Linked DNA regions of Homo sapiens: regions 1, 2, 4 and 5 are each reported to be linked to region 3. The links are microRNA targets in miRTarBase. Many come from high-throughput screens and were not tested one by one. Region 3 holds a microRNA gene; each other region holds the end of a gene's coding sequence.

What was found. Region 3 holds the annotated microRNA hsa-miR-4287 (UCUCCCUUGAGGGCACUUU, at 3,160-3,178, shown strand). A microRNA usually pairs through its seed, bases 2 to 8, with sites in the 3' UTR of a target mRNA and lowers its output. Matches are read on the target gene's strand: a 7mer-m8 pairs with bases 2 to 8, a 7mer-A1 pairs with bases 2 to 7 and ends in A, and an 8mer does both.
Region 1: the mRNA of MED8 is a reported target of hsa-miR-4287. Seed matches in the 3' UTR shown: 7mer-A1 at 3,798-3,804.
Region 2: miRTarBase lists RNF20 as a target of hsa-miR-4287. The part of its 3' UTR that is shown has no 7-base or 8-base seed match.
Region 4: the mRNA of RNF146 is a reported target of hsa-miR-4287. The part of its 3' UTR that is shown has no 7-base or 8-base seed match.
Region 5: the mRNA of ZNF619 is a reported target of hsa-miR-4287. Seed matches in the 3' UTR shown: 8mer at 3,569-3,576.

Annotation. Positions count from the first base shown.
Region 1 is chr1:43,380,438-43,385,541 of GRCh38, forward strand. It overlaps MED8 (mediator complex subunit 8), which reads right to left. Exons shown (of 7, transcript NM_201542.5): 7 at 3,480-4,669. The coding sequence ends at 4,605. MED8-AS1 (MED8 antisense RNA 1) reads left to right here and starts at 4,612. Exons shown (of 2, transcript XR_001738027.1): 1 at 4,612-4,704; 2 at 4,847-5,104.
Region 2 is chr9:101,562,016-101,567,115 of GRCh38, forward strand. It overlaps RNF20 (ring finger protein 20), which reads left to right. Exons shown (of 20, transcript NM_019592.7): 20 at 231-1,329. The coding sequence ends at 407. Among named protein-coding and RNA genes, the nearest start is that of PPP3R2, 30 kb to the right of the region's middle.
Region 3 is chr8:27,884,162-27,889,265 of GRCh38, reverse strand. It overlaps MIR4287 (microRNA 4287), which reads left to right and starts at 3,150; the gene lies at 3,150-3,227. The region is part of intron 7 of SCARA5 (scavenger receptor class A member 5); the gene reads left to right.
Region 4 is chr6:127,286,769-127,291,872 of GRCh38, forward strand. It overlaps RNF146 (ring finger protein 146), which reads left to right. Exons shown (of 3, transcript NM_001242850.2): 3 at 1-1,794. The coding sequence ends at 925. It overlaps ECHDC1 (ethylmalonyl-CoA decarboxylase 1), which reads right to left. Exons shown (of 6, transcript NM_001002030.2): 6 at 1,944-3,509. The coding sequence ends at 3,101. Among named protein-coding and RNA genes, the nearest start is that of RNF146, 22 kb to the left of the region's middle. RefSeq lists a silencer at 4,029-4,088.
Region 5 is chr3:40,487,332-40,492,435 of GRCh38, forward strand. ZNF619 (zinc finger protein 619) reads left to right here. Exons shown (of 5, transcript NM_001145093.4): 5 at 1-3,722. The coding sequence ends at 910. Among named protein-coding and RNA genes, the nearest start is that of ZNF619, 13 kb to the left of the region's middle.

The DNA.
Region 1 (5,104 bases), not on the chromosome of region 3:
GAGTTTCTGAGGAGTGGTGGAAGTAGAAGCCCAAACACAGGGGTTGAAAAGTGAATGGGAGGTAAAAGAAACAGTGATTCTAAGCACTTTGTTTCAAGAGCATGGCGCGAGTGAGTCAGTGAGAGGGGATGTAGGGTTAAGAAGGATCTTTTAACATGGAAGAGACACTAAAATGGCACTATCTAAGGCCATGAAATGTAGCCCAGAGAAACTGGCAAAAAGAATGAAGGATAGACTGGGTGTGGTGGCTCACACCTGTAATCCCAGCACTTTGGGAGGCTGAGGTGGGAGGATCGCTTGAGCTCAGGAGTTTGAGACCAGCCAGGGCAACATAGAGACCCTGTCTCCATTAAAAATAATAATAATTTAAAAATTAGCTGGGCATGGTGGCACATGCCTGTGGTCCCAGCTACTTGGGAGGCTGAGAGGTGGGAGGATCACTTGAGCCTAGAGGACCACCTGAGTTGCAGGATCACAGTGAGAGGTGATTGTGCCACTGCACTCAAGCCTGGATGACAGAGTGAGACCCTGTCTCAAAAAAAAAAAAAAAAATGAACAAAGGATATCTACGTAGGGAATGTGGGCAAGAAAAGATGAAGAATCAAAATGACCACAAACTAGGGAAATTAGGGTGAGAATTAGGGAAAGCAGTGGAATGGCAGAGAAAACATAGGAAGACGAGCATCCCAAGGCACTTATATTTGATTCAGTAGGAAAGGTTATCTTCATGTGGAAGAAGTATAATTTATTGCCTATACTGGAGGAGTCTCTTTGGTACATGTATCTTGCCCAAGGAGAGAGAGATGTGTGAGGGGGAGGGCGACTTCTAACACACAAGGTATGTCAGAACTTGTAACTTGTGATAACTTTGTGGTAACTTACCATCTCTTTGATGAATCTTCACTTAGAGAAAGATGTTTTAGAAAACAGTTTCAAGGTTGTGGTCTACAAGGGTGTTGGTATGTTAAGGTGTAGGTGACAGCGAGGGAACTTCAGGAACAGTTTATAGGAGTCTGAGGGACTTGGGGGCTTATCTAGGAAAATTTTGGCCTATTTATGTAACAGTCATGCACCAAGGAAAACAAAACAAAACAAAATGCCTGGGGATAAATGGGTTTGAAAATCATTGCCACAGACTTTAGACCTAAAAAGGATCACTGGGATCACCAAGTGAGAAAACTGAGGCTTAGGGAAGTGAGATGCCTTGTCCACGATGTACTTAGGGAAGCTGCCATGTCCAAATGGCATGTGACTCATTGAGAGACCACAACAGGAACCCAAGAGCTGCCTCAGTGACACATGGAGCTCAAAAAAAAAGAGAAGTTAAAGGGAAGAAGAAAGGAACTTTGTCTTGTGGGACAAAACACATGCTGAAGTGATGGGGCACCATGGTCCCATCAGATGCGTTGGAGTTTGCCTTCTGTTCCAATCATAAAGCCCCATCTGCACAGTGGCAAGCCCTTTCCAAGGGTTAGTCCCCATGTGTTTGAGGTTTCCAGGCAAGAGCCACATCGAGCCTCCATAAGCAGGCACTGTGAACCCTCAAGACTGAACAGAAAAGGACCACATCCCCTGTTCCTACTCCTGGCCCAATGCTAAACTTCAGTAGGCTATTCCCCTAATTCTGGAGCAGATAGGAAAGGCAGATGGAAGAGAATGTACACTCCTTCGTAGTTCATCTGGACAGTAATCAGGAGCTGACCCAGGGTGGGCGTTTGGAAGGACTCAGCCTCCGTCCTGCCTGGTGCTGGGATCAGCTTACACAGCTCCTGTGTCCACAGGGCACAGAGAATACATTGTCCATAAGGAGGATTATTCTGTACAAGAAGCTCAGACAAAGGGAGAGGTTGTTTCCAGCTGCCTGGGGGAGGTGAGAGGGGGGTGGGAAAAGGGACCAGCCTTGCACTGGGGCATTCCTGCAGAGTTCAGCTTCTTCTCTGTGGCAGCACAACAGGAGGTGGGCAATTACACCCCCTCCAGCTCAATCCTAATGCTGGGACCCATTATGGAGTTCTAAGGAGCACTTGGCTACAACCTATCTATCTTGGCTGTTTCCCAAAAAACGACAGGGTTGAATGAGGTACACCAGCTAAGTAGGGCAGCAATAAACACCAGAAGGGGAACAGAATGGGGTGACTGGCACAATGAGCAAAAGAGAGGTTCAGCAATGACTGAATCCCAGGCTCAGGGCAGAGCTGGAGAGGGAGAGATCCTAGGCAATGGGCCTTATGCTGACATTGATTGGATAAGCTTCCGCCTTCAGCAGGATGAACTCTGTCCTGTAGTAAGCTCTTGACGTTTCACAGCTGCTGCTTCTTTCTCCATCCTAGACACAAACCTAGGAGACAATGGCCTAATCTCTTTCTCCAGGGGACCCAAGAATAGGAGAAAGCACGATCTCCAAGCAAAACAGGACAGTCAAAAACAGAGGAATGTTACCAGAGTAGGCCAATAGTCACCTTTTGCAAATCCTAAATCTGAGCCAGTAAATAGGTCATGTCCCCTTCTTCAAAGGAAAACTGTATATGTATTCCCTCCTGAGGGAATGAGTATGTTAGGGGTGGGAGATACATACTCTCTATTGAGGCATTTAATAGGCTGTATGGACCCCAAAGTGGGAGACACTACTGAGATTTGTGTACTCCAGATGATTTGAGGATGGGGGATAAAAACGACAGCATGTGCTCCTACGGTGATGAATGTAGAGGAGTCCCTCTAGAGGAAGGAGTGTTTGCTTAGGGGAACAAGATGTAGGTGACATCCTGCATATGTTCCTGTTGGGGCAAGAGGATATTTCCATTCTTGGATGACAAGGAATCCATTTTAATAGTATGGTGGGGATGAAGTCAGTATTTGCCTGGGACACAAAAAAACTTGGGGTTGGTGCCATTCAATAGGAGGGAATCTTTTGGTGGAGTAAAGGACAATAGTCACCAAAAGATGCTCCAGGAATTTCAGAGAAGCACAGCTCAAACTCTACCCAATATGCCAGTTAATACTGACATTTCCAGTGGGAAGGGAAGAGGTGAGAAGATAACACCTGAGTGGGCTGATGAGCCGGAACAGTTTAAGTGGGGGAAAGGTCTGGCATTGCCTTAGAGCTGGTGACCAGACTCCCCTACTGCTATGTATTGTGGTCAGTGAGCTTTGTGGATACCATTCCTCACCTTGATGGAATGGTAACAGATGTGACATCTGGGACCACTTTTCCAGTCCTTTGCTGCCACAGCCTGGCAGAACTTTGTTTGGCACTGAACAAATGCCAAAGTACCAGTGTGTGACAGAACAGAAAAAAGGCAGCTGGAAGGTATGAGCAGGAGGGAAGTTTCAGGATTTTTAGATCAAAGCTAATTAAAGATACGGAAACTTTTTTATGGAGAACAAATTAGAACTGCCTTGCAGCACTCTTGAAACTGCCCCTCTGATCCCTATGTAGTGCTCTCATAAATTACTGTCAGACAACCCTGAGCCAGTGAACATCAATTTAAATAACTTTATTCAGAGGAATCCTTTGGTCCACTTCTGCTGACTCAACCCCTGCCCATGCCAACAAAGGAGTACTAAGAAAGGCAGGTTAGCCTGAATGTCTAAATTCAATTTGTTCAACTTTATAAAAGCAGGCAAAGCTACTGGGGGTTGCCCCCTCCCACCATCATTCTGGTCCACCATTTGGGCCACAGGCTTAGGGAAATGAAGGAAAGTCGTTTTCTTTGAAGGAAATCCTGGCCAAAGTCGAGAAAGTGGGCACCATTATGAGGTCAACTAAACCCTGATGGCAGTGTGAAGTGCAATTCCCTTCTCCCTCCAAAATAAGAAACATGAATCCAGGGGAAGGGGCTTTTTCGTGTGCTAAGGAAAAACCCTTTCCCACATAGTCCTGCCTGGCAGAGCCACTTCCTGAGAAAGCCTCGTGTGTATAAGGTGGGGTAAAGGATAGGGGACTTTATGACTATTTGACAGGTAAAAGCCAAGTTGGCTCCTTAGAGGATGGAAAGGAGAGCAGGCCCAAGCTTCACCAGAGCTGCAGGTGGGCATTTTTTTTTCCTTCCTGGCCCAGAAGCTTCTTCACCTTGCGCCTTAGAGGGATAGCCAGAATGAAACCCAGGCAGGAGGGCCTGCAAAAACAGTGTGCCTCTAAGAACACAGAGGTTGCTACAGTTTCTGGCAGCACAAAATAAGCATAGCCTTATTTGATCTTGTGTCCATCAGCTCACCATTGACGTGAGGCAGTATCAGATTAGGGTAAGTTCTGGATCAAGGACTGTGGAGGGTGGTGGGGAGAAGGATCTGTAGAAACTATCATTTATTGAATACCCATTATTTCATATACTGTACTAAGTGCTTTACATTCATTTCCTCATTTTAATCCTCACAACAACCCTATGAGGTAGGTATTATCACCATTTACAAATGAGAAACAGGCTCAGAAAAATTAGGTCACTTGTCCAAGGTCACACAGCTAGTCAGTGGTGGAAGTGGGATTTGTCTGCTGCTGAAAGCCCATGTTCTTTTTATTGTACCCATCTAGGTGAGCCTTGAGCAAAAGGTAATTTCACTGCCCAACTCTGCAAAGAGCACCAGGGAGTCGAGGTTGCCAGCCACACTCACCGCTGGTAGGGATGCATGGAAGCCGACTTGATGTTGGTTTTTATTCCACTTGGCATTTTCCCTGAAAGGAACATTAAAAAAGTCATCTTAAGCAAGGTAAGACTTTCATGACAAATCAGAAATGTGGTACCTCAGGTTCCCTCTGTCACTTCCTTTATCATCTCAGAACCTCTGCGGCATCTGACCCTGTTTGACAGAGGTCAGAAGTATGATTCTTCACCCAGCTGTCTCCCTGAAGGTGTCCAGGAGGAAAGAAGTGACATGGGAGAATAGTCTGTTCATCCACTCCTAGAACAGATAGCTAAACCTGTGTGACTCCCATTTAACGTCACAGGTAAAAGAGTACTATGTTCTCTCATTGTTTTTCTTTTTTTATATCATAATAAGTGCAGAATCTCTCTTTAATTGTCCCTTTTCCTAGACAGCTTGGAGGAAATAACTCTTCTAGCTGCCTGCATCTAGACTGTTCTAAAAATGAGTAGGAGAGAAGGCAGGA
Region 2 (5,100 bases), not on the chromosome of region 3:
GAAAAAATGCCTTAGTGATTAGTTTTTTGTCAAAGCTTTAAGTGGCCTAATAGACTGGGAGAATAATTTGCATGATAGTAACCAGAGAATGGTTTATTTTGGAGGTTGGGGGGAAATGATGCTCTTTTTTTAGTGCCTTGTGGGTTTTCTTCTTGGTTGTGTAGTATATGAGAGCCATTTGGATCATAAACTTTCATGGTTGTTCAAACTCTGACATCTTTTCTTTTTAGGCACGCTTGACCTGTCCGTGCTGTAACATGCGTAAAAAGGATGCTGTTCTTACTAAGTGTTTTCATGTCTTCTGCTTTGAGTGTGTGAAGACACGCTATGACACCCGCCAGCGCAAATGTCCCAAGTGTAATGCTGCTTTTGGTGCCAATGATTTTCATCGCATCTACATTGGTTGATCTAAGTCAAGAGAAGAAGAGGAGCTGGCTAGTCAGGAACTTATTCATTAACCACCAAACCTCTACCTCTTCTCTCCTTGACTGTCACCTGTAGGACAGTTTATCAGTCAACTACCTTTCCTCCAGACTTTACTTCCAGGCTCTCCTCTTCAGTAGCTGGATGACTTTAGCAGAAAGGACTGGTAAATACAAGCCTTGGGTTTCAGAATGAATTAGAAACAAATAACTCTTACTGTCTTCCCTCCCAGCTTTGTTTATTTTGTGCTTTTAGACTTTTCAGTGTTTTCTTTTTCCAGCCCACTGTATAAACTTGGATTGTCCATTCCTCCTGAAGAAATCAAGTTGGTATTTTTGATGTGGAAAAGGGAACAAAAGTGGAAACATGGCTACTTTTGGGGAGTGATATTTTAAAAAATAAGTTGTCTATGGGCACAAAGTTTTCTTCATTTGTGTAGCAAACTTCTTGTGAATGTGGATTACAAAATGGTATAATTGTGCTACTCTCCCCTGGGTGGTTTGCAGCCCTAATGAAATTATGTCTAGGATGATTCAGTCTATTTCCCATTTACTAGCAGAGTAACTTGTTAAGATCAGCTGGCTTTCTTGTTAAAGTTATTTAAGTTTTGAATGCTCTACTACTTCAAGTCTTTAAATTTCTTGAGACTAGAATAATTTTAAATAATATGACCCTTTGTCTTCTAATGAAATAAAGATTGAAGAGGTTGAGTCAGGACTGAGCTGGTGAAGAAATCTTGTGGGTATTCTGGAAATTTGATACGGAGAGAACTTGGTGAGCTATGAATTACTCTCAGTCTCCTTTTTACAGGGTTGTTGTGATCCCTCTTTTCCAGAAAATTCTGTGGAATGTTTCTGTAGGACTTTGTTCTCCACAAGCTTGAATTAAAGCAGGATTCAGTTTGCATTTGTGTTTATGGTTTTTCTTTGAAACTTTTGTCTTTATTATTACAAGTTGATTTTATATCTGCTGTTATAGAATTAAATTTTCTTGCATGGAAATAATCAGCTTAGGTTAAGAGGTTGGCCTTGTTTAGAGTATTTAGATCTTTGCTTAATTGAAGCACTTTTCTCCCAATTCTTTTATTGAGTCTATTCTATGGAGAAATTATACCTAAAAGATTAATTTATTTGACTACTCAGTTATCTTTCATAGTTCATTAGGTGGGGTAAGAGACTATAATTTGTTTTTTGGGGGAGCATATTGCTGCCTCTAGCTTTAGGGTGAGAGTTCTTGCATTATGTGGTGGGTTTTTTTTTTTTTTTTTTGAGATGGAGTTTTGCTCTTGTCGCCCAGGCTGGAGTGCAGTGGCACAATCTTGGCTTACTGCCACCTCCGCCTCCTGGGTCCAAGCAATTCTCCTGCCTCAGCCTCCCGAATAGCTGGGATTACAGGTGCTCACCACCATGTCCAGCTAATTTTTGTATTTTTAGCAGAGATGGGGTTTTACCATGTTGGCCAGGCTGGTCTCAAACTCCTGACTTCAGGTGATCCACCTTCCTTGGCCTCCCAAAGTGTTTTGATTACAGGTGTGAGCCACCATGCCCAGCTGCATTATGTTTTATAATAACCAGCAAACCAGAGGTTTCATAAATCTCTGGCAAGGGGTTGTGTAAAATGGATCCTTCTTGATCACCACCTGTCCTAGAAGACAGGTAAGAGCAAATTCTGTGTCTTTCTGTGGTCACCAGCTATAATCAGCAGGATTTGCACTGAATTCCACAAAGTCATGTGGTATGAATTAAGCAATGAGTCTAATTGAAGAATCTTACTAGGTCATCAAGAGAGGTCATGGGTCCCTTGATCCCCCTGCTCAGCAAACACCCCCACCCCCACAGAACCATCATGACAGGATTAGCTCCTGCTTCTGGACACAGTGAGTTTTCATTTAGTAATAGGACACTTTCCCCTTGCTTCTTGCTCTTCTTATAGGGTAAGCTTGAGCATAACTTTGTTGGTTGGGTGCAGATATACTGCTTGGTCAACAGGTGGTTTGGGCTTGGCTGTTGGCTGTTTGTGACAATTGGCTGAGAAAGCCAGCTGCCCAGCACCAGGGGACCATAGGGCCTGTGGAATGTTGTGGAGGAAACCACTAGCCCCATGGGAAGTTGGATTTAGAGGAAGTTCCTCTAGTTGAGATGAGCAGGGAGCCCCTGATCCCAACTGGCTTGAGGTCCTGGCAACACAAGTTGAGCTCTCACAGTCATTTTCAGATAACAACCAAAAATGATGGTGATTTTTTGGCAGTTGGCTTCTCTCACTACAGAAGAGGTCAATGAATGCGCTTTAGGAATACTCCCAAACTGCATACCAAATTTTATTTGTATTGTATGTACATTATTCATAGCTTTTTTGGATCCTAGTTAGCAATCACAGCCCTTGATCCATATGAACTTTAAAGGGTAATTTCTTTAAGGTAATGCTTATAAATGCCAATTTCAAAGATTATTATAGAAGTCCTAGAGGCTTCTCATTTCTTAAAAACACTTCAGGCTGGGTGCAGTGGCTCACGCCTATAATCCCAGCAGTTTGGGAGGCTGAGACAGGAGGATTGCTTGAGCCCAGGAGTTTGAGACCAGCCCAGGCAACATAGGGAGACCCCGTCTCTACAAAAAATTTCGAAAATTAGCTGGCTGTGGTGGTGCACACCTGTAGTCCCAGCTACTTGGGAGACTGCAGCGGGAGGATAGCTTGAGCACCGGAGGTTAAGGCTGCTGTGAGCTGTGATTATGCCATGGACTCCAGCCTGGGTGACACAGTGAGACCCTGTCTCAAAAACAAACAACAACCATTTCAGATTTTGTAGGGATGGTCTCTCTCTCTCTTTTTTCTTTCTTTCATTGTTACCTTGGAAATTTCTTAGTGACTTTGACCAAAGTCAGGTGTGCTCTGAGGCATGCATAACTACATGGCTTGGATCTTACCTTCTTACTTACTATAGGGATCTTTTTCAAAGGTATTGAGCTGTTTCTGCAATTGTTTTCTTACATGAATTTCCATTGCAATTCCTTTTCCTTTTTCTCTGTCCAGATCCGTAGGCTTCCTTGTTCTTCAAGGGCCGGAATTTGATGCACATAGTTTAATGTACATGCCACTAGAGTGATGACTGTGATTTGATTTTGTGAAGATTCTAGACAATAAATAATCATCAGTCTTCTAAACCTACTAGGATGGTGATGCTTACACTTGCCGGAAGCATATGCTACTCTCATCTTTATTCCCATTGTCATTTGCTAGGATGTGGAATGCCGTTACATATTGTTCTTTGAAGATTTATCTGAGGACTGCCAGATAAACCCATGTCCCAGTGGATCTGCAGAAAAGTTTTGATTAGTCATTATTGCAGAAGTCTGCTTTTCTGATGTTAAGACAGATACACTGAGATTAGTAGAAAAATGGTGGATTATGTGTAGGTTGGATTGGGTTTGCACAATAGGAAACCCATGACATAGAAATACTTACAAATTTTCTAGATCTTAAAGTTTGGAAATACTTAAAAGTGGTCCTATCAGAAAGAATGAGCTTTACCTTCTGGGATTCCTGCCCATGTTTGGTCTGTTCCAAATGTTAGCTATTAAGGTCTTACTTATAGCCTACTTCACAATTACTAAAGGACATGAAAAGGACAATGTCTTAACAGTCTAATCCCTAATATCTAGCAGAGGCACATAGTAGTCAGTAAAGTTTTTCATGATTAAATTAATTCTGCTTCATGGTTCTGCTGCCAGATCTTCCGAAGTCTGCTTTACTGGGCCAATGTGTGATTCAAACCTTATTACTCTTTCTTTTTTTCACCCCCTAAGTAGAAACAATCTTTCCCCATATATCGAAGTAACCCTTCAAATTTGTATTATCCAAAAATATATGACTACAGTTTTAATTTATTTTGTGGCAATAAAAGGAATTATTATGAATTCTAAAACTAACACTTCTGTAGTGGCAGCTCATGAGACTGCTGAGTCTCATGTAGCTGAGACTTCACTTACTGCAAGGCACACATGATAACCACTACGCTACGGAAACCTGCATAAAAGCTTCATTTATTGTAAGTTAACCTTTTTTTTTTTTGAGGGAAGCTATGTTCACATTAATATAATAATAATATGCTCTGAGGATATTAGAGCTGAAAGGGAACTCAGACCATGTCCTTATTTTAGAAGTGAGGAAATAGGTTCCAGGGCCACTCAGGTTAGCCACAGGATTGAAATGCTACTATGAGAACTCCATTGTTCTTTTATCCCAATCGGAGACCTGTACTAATAGAGTACATGTCATCAGGTAGACAATAAGTGAAAATACTTTCTGAGTCATTTTGAAGTCTTCTAAAGACTTACATATACCTACTATACTTATCCTTGATCATTCTAATCTAACTAGACTCTTTGCCAGGCCCTGGATTAGAACTACATTTTGTTTCTGAATTCACTGAGTTCCTTTAGCACCTTGTTGTAGAGTAGAATTGAATCAAGGGATCTTAGATTTCTTCCTGCTCTCCCAATCATATGCATTTGCTGAGTGCTTATTGTGATTCCAGGCATTGTGTTAAATATATTTCTCATGAAGTCCGACTTGCCTGCGTATGGTGCTGCTACTTATTAGCAAGTTACTTCATGTCTCTATGCTTCAGTTTCTTCATCTATAAAATAATAACTACATCATAGGGTTATATGGAGGATG
Region 3 (5,104 bases):
CTAATGGAAGTTGTTCCTAGTGATATCCTGAGAAAATGCTAAGATTCCTTGTCCAGACCCATGCCTTGATCTTCTCCATGACCTGGCCTCATCTGTGCCTCAGCTGTACCCTCTTTACTGGGGAACAAGCTCAAGCTTTGAGAGATTTGGGGCCTGTAGAAGGAGGGTGGCTGAGGACCATGGGGTTGGTCCCGGTGGGGCCTGGGTGAAGGGCAGGCTCAGTACAACAGGTTGAGGAATGGGGAGGCAGGTGCTGTGGTCTGGGGCTGCAGTGAGGCAGAGAGCTCCAAGCCGAGGCTGGAATTGACACTCCAGAAAAGTTGTGGGGTGAAACAATGAGCCCCTTGATCTGGGAGACAGCAAGGAGGCTACCCAGCCAGGAGCCAGTCTCCTGCCCTGTGTTCCCTCAAACCACTTTCCTCTCCTAGGGTTACACAGTGAAACCAGGCAGGGATGCTCTGGTCTGGGCTTTGAGGTGACAGCACTTTTCTCTTTCTGCTTCTCTGTATCAAAGGGAAGAACCTTGGTCACAGGGTGTTGATGGGGCTTGTAACCAAACCGAAGTGGGATCTTCTTGCCTGGCATGGTAAAGCCAAACATCCATACTGAAGTTGTGCAGTGGGAGGAAGCATGGTGTTTATTTGCAAGGCACCAAGCAAAGAAAATCTGGTAGCTCACACTTAAGACTCAACCTCCTGGATGGCTTACAAGCAAGGCTGTTTAAAGGCAATGGTAAATTTCAGGAGAGCAGAAGTTACAGGCAAATTTCTAAATCAAGACATGGATGTTATACATTGGTTTGGCCTAAAAAGGTGGGAAATCTGGAAGCAAGGGCTTACAGGTCATACATGGCTTCAAAGACTTTCTGATTTGCAATTGGTTAAGGAAGGGAAACTTTGTCTAAAAACTTGGGTTCAGCAGAAAGGAATATTAAGGTCTGGCCTGTGGATGTGACTTCTTCCAGGTCCTCAGAGCTAGCTAGGTGCCTGGAATTTTCCTTTATTCTGTGGCACTGGAGAATAAAGAATAAACACAATCATTAGCTGGGCATGGCAGCATGCACCCTGTAGTCCCAGCTACTTGGGAGGCTGAGGCGGGAGAGAATGGCTTGAGCCTGGGGGACAGAGGTTGTAGTGAGCCGAGATCATGCCACTGCACTCCAGCCTGGGTGACAGAGCCAGACCTTGTCTCAAAAAAAAAAGTCCGTCAATCAGAGTTCAGGCCTCAGTTTCCCCTCATTTGAGGTCTATATGCCAGCAAATCCATTTGGTTCTGGGTTTCTGAAAAACATCCAGCTGGGTTTCTGAAAAACACCTCAGGGACATATGTTAAGATGTTCTCTTTAGTTTCTATAGAGAGTCATCAGAGGTTGACTCTAACTTCTTTGACTATTGCTTTAAGCTACTATTTCTTTCTTTCTTACCAAGTTGCTCATTTACTTCTTGGGGCTAGCCTAGAATTTCCCTTGAAGATACTCAAGATTTTCTTTTATTTCCATGTTTGGGGGCCTAGCAGCCCCTAAGTCCCTGCTCCATCTCGGGCTTGTGGTCCCCAGTTCTGGGGAAGCAGGGAAAAGATGAACAGAGATGAGCCCTGTGGATATCTGGGTGTCTCTGCTATGGGGGGCAGGGGTGGGCATTACAAGAAAAAGCTCTGCCAAAGCCTTGTGGGATGGGGATTGGAATAAGCTGTCAAGAACAGCCTCTCCTTGTTTTTAGTAAGGAATAGCTCTTGGTGTTTCCCTTCAGCTTGGGTTTTCCAGCCAAGTGATGCTATGTGCCGGTGCCATTCCTGCACAGAGCTGGTAGGGACCAGCCTTGTAGCCAGTACCATCCTCTTAACTTGCAAACCATGAAGGCATGGACAGGTAGACCCCAGTCTGCAGGTTAGGGATCCAGAACAAGAGGAAAAGTGTGATAGTCTCTGCACCTAACGCCCTCACCTGAGGGGTGCAAATCAGATACCCACACGGGAGTGGTATGGGGCAGGGTTTTCTTCCGGGTTGCTGATCCTCATTTGCTCAGGAAGGGTTTTCCAGGGCTCAATGTGGTATGATGCCAAGGAGGAGGTGAAGGTGCCTCGCAGTCATTGAAGGGCAGTTACTAGGGGACGTGGCTGCAACCTCGAAAGCCTGGGGTCCCATTGCTCATCACCAGCTCTCTTGCCCTTTGCCCTCTACCTGGAGCATCTGCTCTTGCTTTGGAGCCTAGGAGTCTCTGAATTTCACACAATCAAGAATCCCTGTCTCCCATTTTCCTCCACTGCCACGTGCAGAGAGAGGCATCTCCCTGACTCCAGTAGCCCCGTTCCCCCTGCAGGGACCCTCCTGGGGGGCATCTGAGGAAAAAACTCCCTGGACTGACAGGAAGAGTCTTGGGGAAGTCACGGACCAGGCTGAGGCTGCCTCTCAGTCACCACTTCTGATTAAGTCGGGGCTGACACATTGTGGGGCAAGAGCATTTCCCAGTGGTGGTTGGTGGCTTGGTGGGAAAGCTTTGACCTGGGGCAGAAACTGCCGGGAAAAAGCAGCATTTAAACCCTCTGCCCACAGAAACCCAAACCTCTTAAATGATGACGTCCTTCTCAGGCTAGAGGGTAGTCACTGTTGGAGGGCGTTGGTGATTCCCCAAGTGTGTTGCTGGAGGTGGCCTCATTGCTCAGCTCTGGGAAAGGCTCCTGCCTGCCTGCCTCCCCTATACCTCTTCAGGGGTAAAGGAGGCCAGAGACACAAGTTTCTGAATTTAGACTCTGAGTTCCTGAATCAGGGCAGCCTACATCATAAGCAAGTCAGACCTCAGCCTGTGGTTTCCCAGAGAGGTGGTAACAGAGCTGAGATTTTGTTGGGTGGGGAGAAAAGGATGCAAAATCCACAGCTTAGGGCCATGCTCTGTGAAGTGGAGCTACAACAAAATGTGGCCTCTGATTTGGGTGAGTCCAGGGGAGAAGGTGTGGCTTTCAGATTTGTGTTGACCCTGCTGGGGCAGGCAGCATCTGTTGACCCTGTGGGCAGGCGGCCCTCCACCATGGGGGGAAGCCCTGAGTCTAGGGGATCTGGGGACAGGTGGTGAGGAACAGGCCTCCATGCTTAATGAACCGACACTGGGGTCTGGGTGGAGTGGTGCCTTGTGCAGCCTCGCCCAGGTGCTCTCTAGTTCTTTTTCTCCCTTGAGGGCACTTTTCAGTTCCTGAGATCAATGTGGTCCCTACTGGGGAGACCATAGGAGCCCTGCAGGCCATGACTTTGCTCAATGCATGGTAAGCATGGGCCATGGGCCAGAGACATCCTTGAAATTGATGCTTTGCATCCCGTGATTATGGTTATCATATGTTTTCAATTTTTTGAAGGTGTCTTGTTTCCAAATATTCTTCTATCACTTCTATATACATTGAAACCTCTTGGGAATTTCAGTATTTCAGCATCCAAATGACATTTTCCAGACTTCCCATTGCACCCACCATGATCATCTGACAGCCATGTCCCCATTCTCTCACTTGAGATGTACGGTCATTGTAACAGCCTGAGCTCTGGGTCCAGAATCCAGAGTCATCTCAAGTAGAGAAGGCAGCAAGTATGTGATTAGAAGTGTTGTGATGTAATAAAGAGGATGCTGGAGATTTGGGGCCCTGATGTTGGATTCTCCATTCAGGTTGCCACCAAAGCCCTGGACTCTGGGGAGCCATGCCCTCCAGCCAGCACCTGCCCATCTGGGTCCATATTAATGAGTCCCTCCATTCATGCATGCCTTCCCTTTGCACAGGCTGGGTATCTCAGTGCACCGGGCCCTGTACCAGGTCACGTGATCCTCAGAAGGCTCACAGTGTCCTAAGAGAGTAAATAGCAATAGCAATTATGACACAAAGCTATAAGCATGTACCTAGAAGGGGCCCTGTTGGGTGTGGGGACCAGGGAAGGAGAAGAGGCATCTAAGCTGAGATCTAAAAGACAAGGAAAGCTTAGGCCAGAGTACAGAAAGGAGTTTTCTGAGGTGGGGGAGTCCACGTCCTTCCTCAGCTCATTCAGGTCTCCACTCAAGGCCTTCCTTCTCTACTCGTCCAAAATGGCACCTGCTCTCACTCCCCACCCTCTTCCTTGTTCACTTGTCCAAGACAGTACCTGCCCTCTCATTCCCTCCCTTGTCCACCTGTCCAAGATGGTGCCTGCCCTCTCTCTCATTTCCTTCCTTGTCCACTCGGCCAAGATGGTGTCTGCCCTCTCTCTCATTTCCTTCCTTGTCCACCCGGCCAAGATGGTGCCTGCCCTGTCTCTCATTTCCTCCCTCCTCCACTTGTCCAAGATGGCGCCTGCCCTCACTCTCCACTCCTTTGTTCACTTGCCCACAATAGTGCCTGCCTCACTCTGTACTCCCTGTGCTTCTGTTCCCATCTATGCTCTTATCACCGCTTGGCTATAATTATGGTTTTGTTTTTGTTGACTAGCTGTATTGCTAGACTCTCCCTAGAATGTCAGCTCCATGAGGGCAGGGACTCTGTTTGTGGGTGTATCCACAGCTGTCTGATAGACTCTCAGTCACTTACTTGGCTAAACGAGTAGGTGCACAAAGTGAGTTCAGGCTGGCCAGAACAGAGAGGCTAAGTCAGGGAGTCTCCGACCGTCTACCTTGGCTGCCTAGTCACACCCAGTCACACTCTTCCTGTTGTTTTGACCCCACACCTGACTTCTGCCTGGCCTGCTCTGTGACTCACAGCACCCTCCTGCCACTTCTTGCCCTACTTGCTGACCCCACACTGTGGCTTCTGTTGCAGGCCTCCTGGTGCAGCCAGAGGTGAGGCAGGTCTGTGAGAAACCAGGGCTGACAGCCTGGCCTCAGCCAACCCAGGGCCAAGGCCCCGCGCAGCGGCCGGGTCCCTCTTGGTGCTGCTGGCTGCAGGTTAGCCTGTCCTTACTGCTCCCGGGGAGTTTCTTGGTGTCAGACCCAGCCTCTGAATTCCAGCTCTTCTCCATGTTTTTCTTCTCCAGGATCTCTCTGTTGTCTTGCATAGCCTCAGCCTGTTTGGGGACAGCCTGAATGAGTTTGTATTTGCAGTCTGTGTGGGGAGAACGGTCACCTGGCCAGGGATGAAGGATCCGCAGCAAATACATCCA
Region 4 (5,104 bases), not on the chromosome of region 3:
TAAGCACGTTTTCTGCTATCTATGTGTAAAAGGAGCTTCATGGCTTGGAAAGCGGTGTGCTCTTTGTCGACAAGAAATTCCCGAGGATTTCCTTGACAAGCCAACCTTGTTGTCACCAGAAGAACTCAAGGCAGCAAGTAGAGGAAATGGTGAATATGCATGGTATTATGAAGGAAGAAATGGGTGGTGGCAGTACGATGAGCGCACTAGTAGAGAGCTGGAAGATGCTTTTTCCAAAGGTAAAAAGAACACTGAAATGTTAATTGCTGGCTTTCTGTATGTCGCTGATCTTGAAAACATGGTTCAATATAGGAGAAATGAACATGGACGTCGCAGGAAGATTAAGCGAGATATAATAGATATACCAAAGAAGGGAGTAGCTGGACTTAGGCTAGACTGTGATGCTAATACCGTAAACCTAGCAAGAGAGAGCTCTGCTGACGGAGCGGACAGTGTATCAGCACAGAGTGGAGCTTCTGTTCAGCCCCTAGTGTCTTCTGTAAGGCCCCTAACATCAGTAGATGGTCAGTTAACAAGCCCTGCAACACCATCCCCTGATGCAAGCACTTCTCTGGAAGACTCTTTTGCTCATTTACAACTCAGTGGAGACAACACAGCTGAAAGGAGTCATAGGGGAGAAGGAGAAGAAGATCATGAATCACCATCTTCAGGCAGGGTACCAGCACCAGACACCTCCATTGAAGAAACTGAATCAGATGCCAGTAGTGATAGTGAGGATGTATCTGCAGTTGTTGCACAGCACTCCTTGACCCAACAGAGACTTTTGGTTTCTAATGCAAACCAGACAGTACCCGATCGATCAGATCGATCGGGAACTGATCGATCAGTAGCAGGGGGTGGAACAGTGAGTGTCAGTGTCAGATCTAGAAGGCCTGATGGACAGTGCACAGTAACTGAAGTTTAAATAAAAATGTCTTCAGCTCCATGCTCAAGGTTGAAAGGGTTACCTGTAAATTTCTGCCCACATAACATTATACTCATCCCTAGTAGTGCATTTTGGGAGTTGGGGTGGGAAGGGGTATGGGAAGGATAGACTCATAATTAAAATGTCTAACATGTCTCTGTTGAGAAATTTATTTAATGTAAGGAACTTGGGTGTTAATAGTTGAGAGCTGTTTAGTAATAACCCAGTTTTCTTGAGGTCTGTTTACTTTATACTTTTTAAAAACTTCTGTAGTTCTTTTGGCCAGTGTGTTTGTATTATCTGTGCATTAATGGTCCTCATCTGACTCCTGCATTGTGTCTTATTTTTCTGCATGGATTGGCATAAGACCATTACTAAAATTTGGCACCTGTGAGATGTTTGATATTATGAACAGGAAACATAATTTAATGTATGAATAGATGTGAATTTGGGATTTCAAAATAGATGAATAACAACTATTTTATAGTAAAGTTATTGAAATGGAAATGAAAACAGCCAGTAACTTATGTTTCAGAATGTTTGTAACACACTTCATGGTGTTCCCATAGGCTTTGCTGTCTAGTCTTATAGTTTGAGGTTTTTTTGGTCTGCATTTTTCTTTTTGATTACAAAATTTATAATTTAATAAATACTAGAGTTTATCAAAAACAGTTTGTCTCTTGTTTGAGGGTGGAAAGGGTGTGGAAACATTTTGACATTTGTGACCAAAGGTCACTTAAAAAGTGGTGGTTTTAATTGGTTGTTTTCAGCTTAATCACCTGCTCAGAAAAGTTTGATTTTTTTCTTAGAGATTATTTAAACAGAATCTATAGGCAGTGTGTATATAATAAACATGTATGGAAATAAAACTAAAGCCTGTGAGACTTAAAATTCCTCAAATAGCATATACCGTTAATATTTTATATTTTCCTTACCATATTCATTAGTAGTCTAACACTCTGGATTAAATGGCAGACTTAACGGTGTTAGCAGACATGAATTCACTTTACACAAAATGTTGTAGACCACAAAATCCACTTTTATTTGGTAGTTTTTACATCTATGGCCAAATAGTATTGGGTTGACACAGTAATCTAGAGTTTACCTCTGAAAAAAAGTAATGTGAGTCTGTCTAACCATATTTTCCTAACTCAACAGTAGGATCATGATGGTAAGGCAAATGCAAGTTATTTTTACCATGATTCTCAAATGTGAATTGAATGTTACAGTAGCAAATACTTTTGACCTCTTGTGATGAGTCAGAACTAGAACTTAATTCTTTGACTTTCACATTTTTTAAAAAGTGTATTGCTGGGATCATAAACATTTTATGTTGTGCATTTTTATTACATTTACTTTTGAAAGATAGTTGTTAGAAGGTTAGTTGTTTTTCAGGAAAAAAAAGAAATCTGATGTAAAAATGCAAATTTATGTTGCAGGATGCTTCATGAGTCCCTTCAAGTGGTTTAAAACTACATCAACAGTAGTTGTTTATTACTAGTTGGAAATTCCAGGGCACACAAATGAATGTCCAATTGTAGAATCAGTTGACTTTCCATGTCATGGCTACCACTGTTTAGTAGGTAATTTACAATAGAAAACTAATTATTGAAAAGAACAAAGTTCCAAATTTGTAGTGGGTAGTGAGGTACATCTTTTTTTAAATGAAGGGCCATTTCCCATGAATTTTACTCCAGCTGTTTGGAGCAGAAGAAAATGATTGATCATACCCTTTCTTGTTTTCTTGTTCCCTGATACCTCCCCACTTTTGTTCTTTAGCAGCAACACTCAGTTATTTTGGTAAATTATTTCCAGGTAAAACAGAACAAAAATTGTATGAAAAGTAACGCCAGGAATAGGTTTTGTATAGAAGCTCTCCTTTTAAACACTGCTCTTTGGTTATAAGCTAAGAATTATTATTGGAATTGACAGCAATAATTTTTAAGCCAAAAGTGTATATTTTAGCTAAATGTTCCAGATTACGCAGTAAATACCCAAGTGAGTAATTGGCAAGAAATGAGGTAAATGAGTTCAGATATTCAAATGATTAAAAGTAAGTCTGCATATTAATAGTAGCCTTCAAAGTAATTCTGATGTTCATATTTAATATCATTTAACATTTATACATATTAGTCACTGGAGCTTTACTTGGAGTACATCCACACGAAAAACCAATTATTTATTAAATTTTCCTTTCTTAGCAATAGCCTCTAAATTTGCAGGCCCACCCCAAACTGTTCCTAAAAGATCTCTTTCGTTCTGTAATGCTTCCTCCAAATATAGCTCTCTGCCTGAACAAACAGATTTTTTCAAAGCTCTAATTACTTCCGGTGGCCCTTGGATGAATTGCTTTAGCCATTCTTGTGCCTCTTCTAGAGATTTAGTTTCATCTGAAGACTGCAAGACCTCTTCAACCATTCCTATGTTTAGAGCATTTTTTGAATCCAGTTTAAGGGCCCCACTCAACACTTTGAGAGCTTGTCTACTTCCGATTATTTCAACTAGCCGGGTGGTGCCACCCCAGCTTGGTATTATGCCCATCTCTTTGTGGACGAATCTGATCTTACTCTCTGGAGTCATTAACCTGTAAAAGAAAAAAGAAAAGCTTAATTGTAACTCTCTCTGTATGCTCTAATCATAAAGTACTATCCATTCATGATCTGATGTGAATTCTCCATAGATCTTTATAGGTAGGTATATTAAAAACAATGTTTGAAAAATATGGCTGTTTCATCTAGAATTTAATTTACTAATAGTATTTAAAACTTCCCTTTGAAAACAGTATCATTTTTTGTTGTGCTTGTTTACCCTTTGCAAACAAGAACCTTCTAAAAGCCCAAAGTTGATCTTTCTTAAGTGAGTGGTGACCTAATGAGAGGATGTGGATCAAGTGAAAGTATGGGAGTAGGAAATGTTAGGTGCATACTAAGAAAAACAAACCGAAAAGCATAGTAAGTTAAGGTTCTCAAAAGTCCTTAGTGGGGAAAAATGCTTTTTAAATACAGCATCTATTCAGCAAGTATTTACAAAGAACTACCAGTGCCAGGTGGTGGTTTAGGTGCTGAGACTACAGGAATGACCAAAACAAAACCCTTGTGCTCAGGAGCTGTTTTCAGTTTGGAGAGAAAGGCATTAAACCATATAAAGTCAGTGGCAATGAGTGCTTTATAGCAAAAAGAGAAAAAGAAAATGAGGCAGGAGACAAATGAATTGAGGATATGTGTGCTGGGGGTGTGCTATTTTCGATGAAGAAGGACACTGAATATTTGAGCAGCCACCTGAGGAAATGAGCAATGCAAAAATCTGGGAAAAGATGTTCCAGGAAGAAGGAATTGCAAGTGCAAAAGTCTTGAAGTAGAGAACTGCTTAGTATCTCTGGGGACGAGTACAGTGTAACTGGAACATGGGGGATAAAATGAGAAGCATACTTAACAGGCCTTAGTAAGGAGTTCGGATTTTATTTTTTAAGTGTAAAGTTATTTAGAGGAGGTCAACCAAAGCATTAACATCTGACATTTTACAAGGGCTGCTCTAGTTGCCATGTGCATGAAGAGCTTATTTAGCATTTCAAAGCTCTTATACCTTTTTTTTTTTTTTTTTTTAAGGAACTGGCAATACAGCTATTGCAGAGCTAGGATTTAAACCCAGGCAGGTTGGCTTCAGTTATCTTCATGGTACACATAATAGCTAGACGAGGTGGAAGCAGGGATACCAGTAAGAAAGTTATTGATAGTGGCTTGGATTAGACTGATAGCAGTGAGTTTCCCTAACGGGTTCATTTTCCCCAGTCATGGGATTTTTATGAATAGGATGATTAATAAGAAAGTATAACAATAAAGGGGAGTTAACATTTGCCAGTTCAACAGACTGAGTAAAGCTACACGATTTAGCTTTACTAAATAAACGCCCATGCGTTTTATTTTGACTGCATGCTTCAAGAAGCTTTCACTTTCAAATTACTCATTACAAAAAAGAAGACCTTAAGTTGGGTTGGCTTTCCAACGTGTTAAATACTCAAATGCAGGTGATTTGGTTCTATTAGCACTAAGAACAAAAAACTCAGTCTTTGACCCGAGAGAATTCTGACAAATGCCAACTTATTAACTCACTGGGAAACTTTCTCTTCACAGCTGTGAATTTCTACAAAGGAAAATATGCCTCCATTATGAACAATTGCTT
Region 5 (5,104 bases), not on the chromosome of region 3:
CCTTCTTCAGCATCAGAAGCTCCATGGTGGACAGAGGCCCTATGAATGTACTGACTGTGGTAAAACCTTCAGTTATAATTCAAAACTGATTCGGCATCAGAGAATCCATACTGGGGAGAAGCCCTTTAAATGTAAGGAATGTGGGAAAGCCTTCAGTTGTAGCTATGACTGCATCATCCATGAACGAATTCACAATGGGGAGAAGCCCTATGAATGTAAGGAGTGTGGGAAGAGTTTGAGTTCTAATTCAGTTCTGATTCAGCATCAGAGAATCCACACTGGGGAGAAACCTTATGAATGTAAAGAGTGTGGCAAGGCCTTCCACCGCAGTTCGGTATTTCTTCAGCACCAGAGGTTCCACACTGGGGAACAACTCTACAAATGTAATGAATGTTGGAAAACTTTCAGCTGTAGCTCCCGCTTCATAGTGCATCAGAGAATCCACAATGGGGAGAAACCCTATGAATGCCAGGAATGTGGGAAGACATTCAGTCAAAAGATCACTCTGGTTCAGCATCAGCGAGTTCACACTGGGGAGAAACCTTATGAGTGTAAGGAGTGCGGGAAAGCCTTCAGATGGAATGCAAGTTTCATCCAGCATCAGAAGTGGCATACTAGGAAGAAACTCATCAATGGAACAGGGCTATCCGCAGTTAAGCCCTACTGTCCCTGCGCCATCCTCTCTCCTCTGCCTCCCCAACATACCTGCTCTGCCCTAGCCCCACCAGGGCCTCCCTTATCTTCTTCACATGCAGTGGTACTTCCTCCCTCTGTGCCTTTCTTCCTGCTGCTTCCCTCATCTGAAAAGGCCAACCCTTCACCTGTCCAAATAGCACATTTTTTTCAGGATCTCGCTTTTCCTGGGAAGTCATCCCTTCAGAGCCCGAATCCTTTGTCTCACTCCCTGTAAGCCCCGTCACGTTCTCAAAATCCTTTGCACCTCAAGTTAGGGATTCCACTGGTCTCCTGATTGTGTCTATTGATATTCCTCTGGTCTTGTCTTGTATAAGTTGTTACTGTTTTCCTAACTTCATTTTAAATTCTCACGCTTAAGGACCATGTTTGATTAGTTTCTTTTATCCCCCGGTAGGAAATGGCAGTACTTATTCTTTATCGTGTCCACATTTGGGCTGTATTATCAGTCTGCATCTCTCTTCTGGGGCTACTGGAGTTGGAAGAGTTTGCAGAACATTTTGGGGTTTAGGGCATATGGCATTATGATTATGATGAGATGGGGCATTATAATTAGAGACTAGGAGAAATGCAAAGCCTATGGGAGAACATAATCAGATAAAGTGTCCAATGATTGCTTTCAAGAGCTTTTTTTTTTTTAGGGGGTGGGGGGTGGTGCCGGAGTTTCACTCTTGTCACCCAGGCTGTTTGCAGTGGTGTGATCTTGGCTCACTGCAACCTCTGCCTCCAGGGTTCAAGTGATTCTCATGCCTCAGCCTCCCGAGTAGCTGGGACCACAGGCATGCACCACCACGCCCCGCTAATTTTGTATTTTTAGTAGAGACAGGGTTTCACCATGTTGGCCAGGCTGGTCTCAAAATCCTGACCTCAGGTGATTCACCTGCCTCAGTCTCCCAAGTGCTGGGATTACAGGCATGAGCCACTGCATCTGGCCTGCTTTCAGGAGTTAAGGAGGGCCATTTGGTGGACCAGGGGCAAGGCTCACTGAAAGAATGTAAGACTTGGAATTTTTTATTACCTTGATAGTATAAAAAATTATGAGGGTCCTTTTATGCAAAAAGAAAATGAAGTGATGAGTTGGCATTGATAGCAATAATGTAAAATTATGTCTTTGAGCTTTATTGGAAGGGGATATGGTTTTTCAATTTGGGTTCCTTCTCTATTTTCATTTTCCTTTTTTTTTTGAGACAGGTTCTTGTTCTGTCATCCAGGCTGGATTGCAGTAGTGCGATCATGGATCACTGCAGTGTGTTGACCTTCCAGGCTCAAGCAATCCTCCCACCTCAGCTTCCCAAGAAGCTGGGAGGTAGTGCAGCCTCCCAGTTTCTCAGAGGGCTGAGGTGGGAGGATTGCTTGAGCCCTGGGGGCATACACCACCACACCCAGCTAATTTTTGTATTTTTTGTAGAGACAGAGTTTTGCCATGTTGCCCAGGCTGGTCTCAAAACTCCTGGACTCAAATGATCCTCCCACTTCAGCCTCCCAAAGTGCTGGGATTACAGGCTTGAGCCACCATGTCCAGCCTCTATTCCTTTTCATATCTGTTGAATTTCAGTACCCACTCATATATGTAGGTACAAAAAGTGACTTGGACTTGTACCCTTTAGGGTAGATGCCTGAGTATAGTAATCTCTAAAGCTGTACATGGATGGAACTTGTTGGCATCACACTGGTGAGCACCAGAGGCAAAGAAGAGAAACCTGACCATGACTTGCTGTAGTTTCTCAGAAGTGAGTCCATTCCTGATGAGTTACTATGCAGGCCCTTGGATATGTCCTCACACCTACTCCAGATTTCCCTATGATTAAATCTGAATTTTATTGGTGGCACTTTTAAATTAGTTTTATAAAGAACTGTTTTGATGACACCAAGAAATGTTTTCAGTGTGCAGATTGCTATTGTTTGAATATCCCCAGCAAAATTCTTGTTGAAACTTAATCCCCATTGTAACAGTACTGGGTGGGGGGTCTTTAAGAGGTGATCAGGATTAGCCAAGTTCATCAGGGTGGAGCCTCCATGATGGGACTGGTGGCTTTATGAGGAGAGGAAGAGCAACTGGAACTGGGACACATGCTTGCTCTGTCTTGCCTTTTGATGCCTCCTGCCATGTCATGATGCAGCAAGTAAGCCCTTACCAGATGCCTGCACCTTTATATTGGACTTCTTAGCCTTCAGAACTGTGAACTAAATAAACCTCTATTCTGTATAAATTACCCAGTCTATGGTATTCAGTTAGAGCCACACAAAATGTAACAAGACAGAATATTGATAGCCATAAGTAGGTTTGCTGCTCTGACATTTACATAAAAATGTAGAAGTGGCTTTGGAACTGAGTAATGGGTAGAGGCTTGAAAAATCTGGAAGATCAGGTCAGACAAAGCCTGTATTATCTAATGGAGCATTAAGGGTGATTTTGGCCAAGGCTTAGAAGAGAAGACTAGGGAAAGTCTGAACCTTCTTAGAGATTACAGGAGGTCCTTGAACAACTTGGGTTTCAACTGTGTGGGTCCACTTATGGACTTTCTTCTGCCTCTGTCACCCCTGAGATGGCAAGACCAGTCTCCCTCCTCTCCCCTTCTCAGCCTGCTTAACAAAATGACAAGGATACAGACCTTTATGATGATCCATATAATATAGTGAATTATATTTACTAAATATAATTTCTCTTATGATTTTCTTAATATTTTCTCTAGCTTTATTATAAGAATATAGTGTCTAATATGTATAACATAAAAAATATGTGTTAATCGACTGTTTCAGTAAGGCTCTGGTCAACAGTAGACTATTAGTAGTTACATTTTTGGGGAGTTAAAAGTTATACATGGCATGGGGGTTGGTGCCCATATGATGGGACTGATGGCTTTATAAGAAGAGGAAGGGAGACCTGAGCTGACATGCATGCTCTTGCCATCTTGCCATGTGATGCTTTCCATCATGTTATGACACAGCAAGAAGGCCAGATACGGCCCCTCCACAGTTCCCAGCCCTCGGAACCATGAGCTAAATAAACTTCTTTTCTTTATAAATTACCCAATCTGTGATATTCTGTTATAGTAACAGAAAACAGACTGACACTGATCTTACCAGACATTATGATCTCACTGGTTTGGCCTACTGCCTAGAGACTGACCCTTCTCAGAATCACTGCTTCAGGGCAGTATAACAACATGCAAAGGTTTATTTATTTATTTATTATTTTTTGAGACGAAGTTTCACTCTTGTTGCCCAGGCTGGAGTGCAATGGCGCGATCTTGGCTCACCACAACCTTTGCCTCCCAGGTTCAAGTAATTCTCCTGCCTCAGCCTCCCGAGTAGCTGGGACTACAGGCATGCGCCACCATGCCTGGCTAATTTTGTATTTTTAGTAGAGATGGGGTTTCTCCATGTTGGTCAGGCTGGTCTCAAACTCCTGACGTCAGGTAAGCTGCCCGCCTCAGCCTCCCAAAGTGCTGGGATTACAGGCATGAGCCACCGCGCCCGGCCACAAAGGTTTTTTAAAAAAACCTTTGTTTTTTAAAAAACTACATTTTTAAAAAAACCTTTGTGGCCGGGCGCGGTGGCTCATGCCTGTAATCCCAGCACTTAATGTAAAAAAACAAACTGTGAAAAATATTTCAGAGACGTTTAACCTGAGCCAATGTGAAGTGACCGTGGCCTGGAGAAAACACAAACCCAGGAAACCTTGAGTAAGTAGTCCTGAGGCAGTCAGAATGTAACTCTGTTTTATGCATTTCAGGGAAGCAGAAGCTACACAAAAAGCCATCAATCAATACATGGAGGTTATACATTGGTTTGGTCCCAAAAGGCAAGATATCTTGAAGCAGAGGAATACAGGTCATAGGTGGGTTCAGAGAGTCTTTTTTTTCTTTTTTTGAGACAGAGTCTTGCTTTGTTGCCCAGGCTGGAATGCAGTGGTGCAATTGAGTTGAGACGGCGTTTCACCATGTTGGCCGGGCCTGTCTTGAACTCCCGAACTCAAGTGATCCACCCGCCCCAGCCTCCCAAAGTGCTGGGATTACAGGCGTGTGCTAAGATTACATGCGTGAGCCACCGTGCGGGGCCAGAGATTATTTAATTTGTAATTGTTTAGAAGAACAAAGTGTGGTCTAAGAACTTGGAGTTACCAGAAAGGAATGTTTAAGTTAAGGAAGTTTGTAGCCAGGTGTGGTGGCTCACACCTGTAATCCCAATACTTTGGGAGGCCAAGGTAGGAGTATCACTTGAAATCAGGAGTTCAAGACCAGCCTGGGCAACATAGGAAAACTGTGTTTCTACTAAAAATAATTTTTTAAAATTTAATTTAATTTAAAAAAGGATAATGTTACGCATCATATGATGCTATGCTAGAGTTGAGTTGTGAGACCAAGCCACTATATATATATTTTATAAAATATATATAATATAGGCTGGG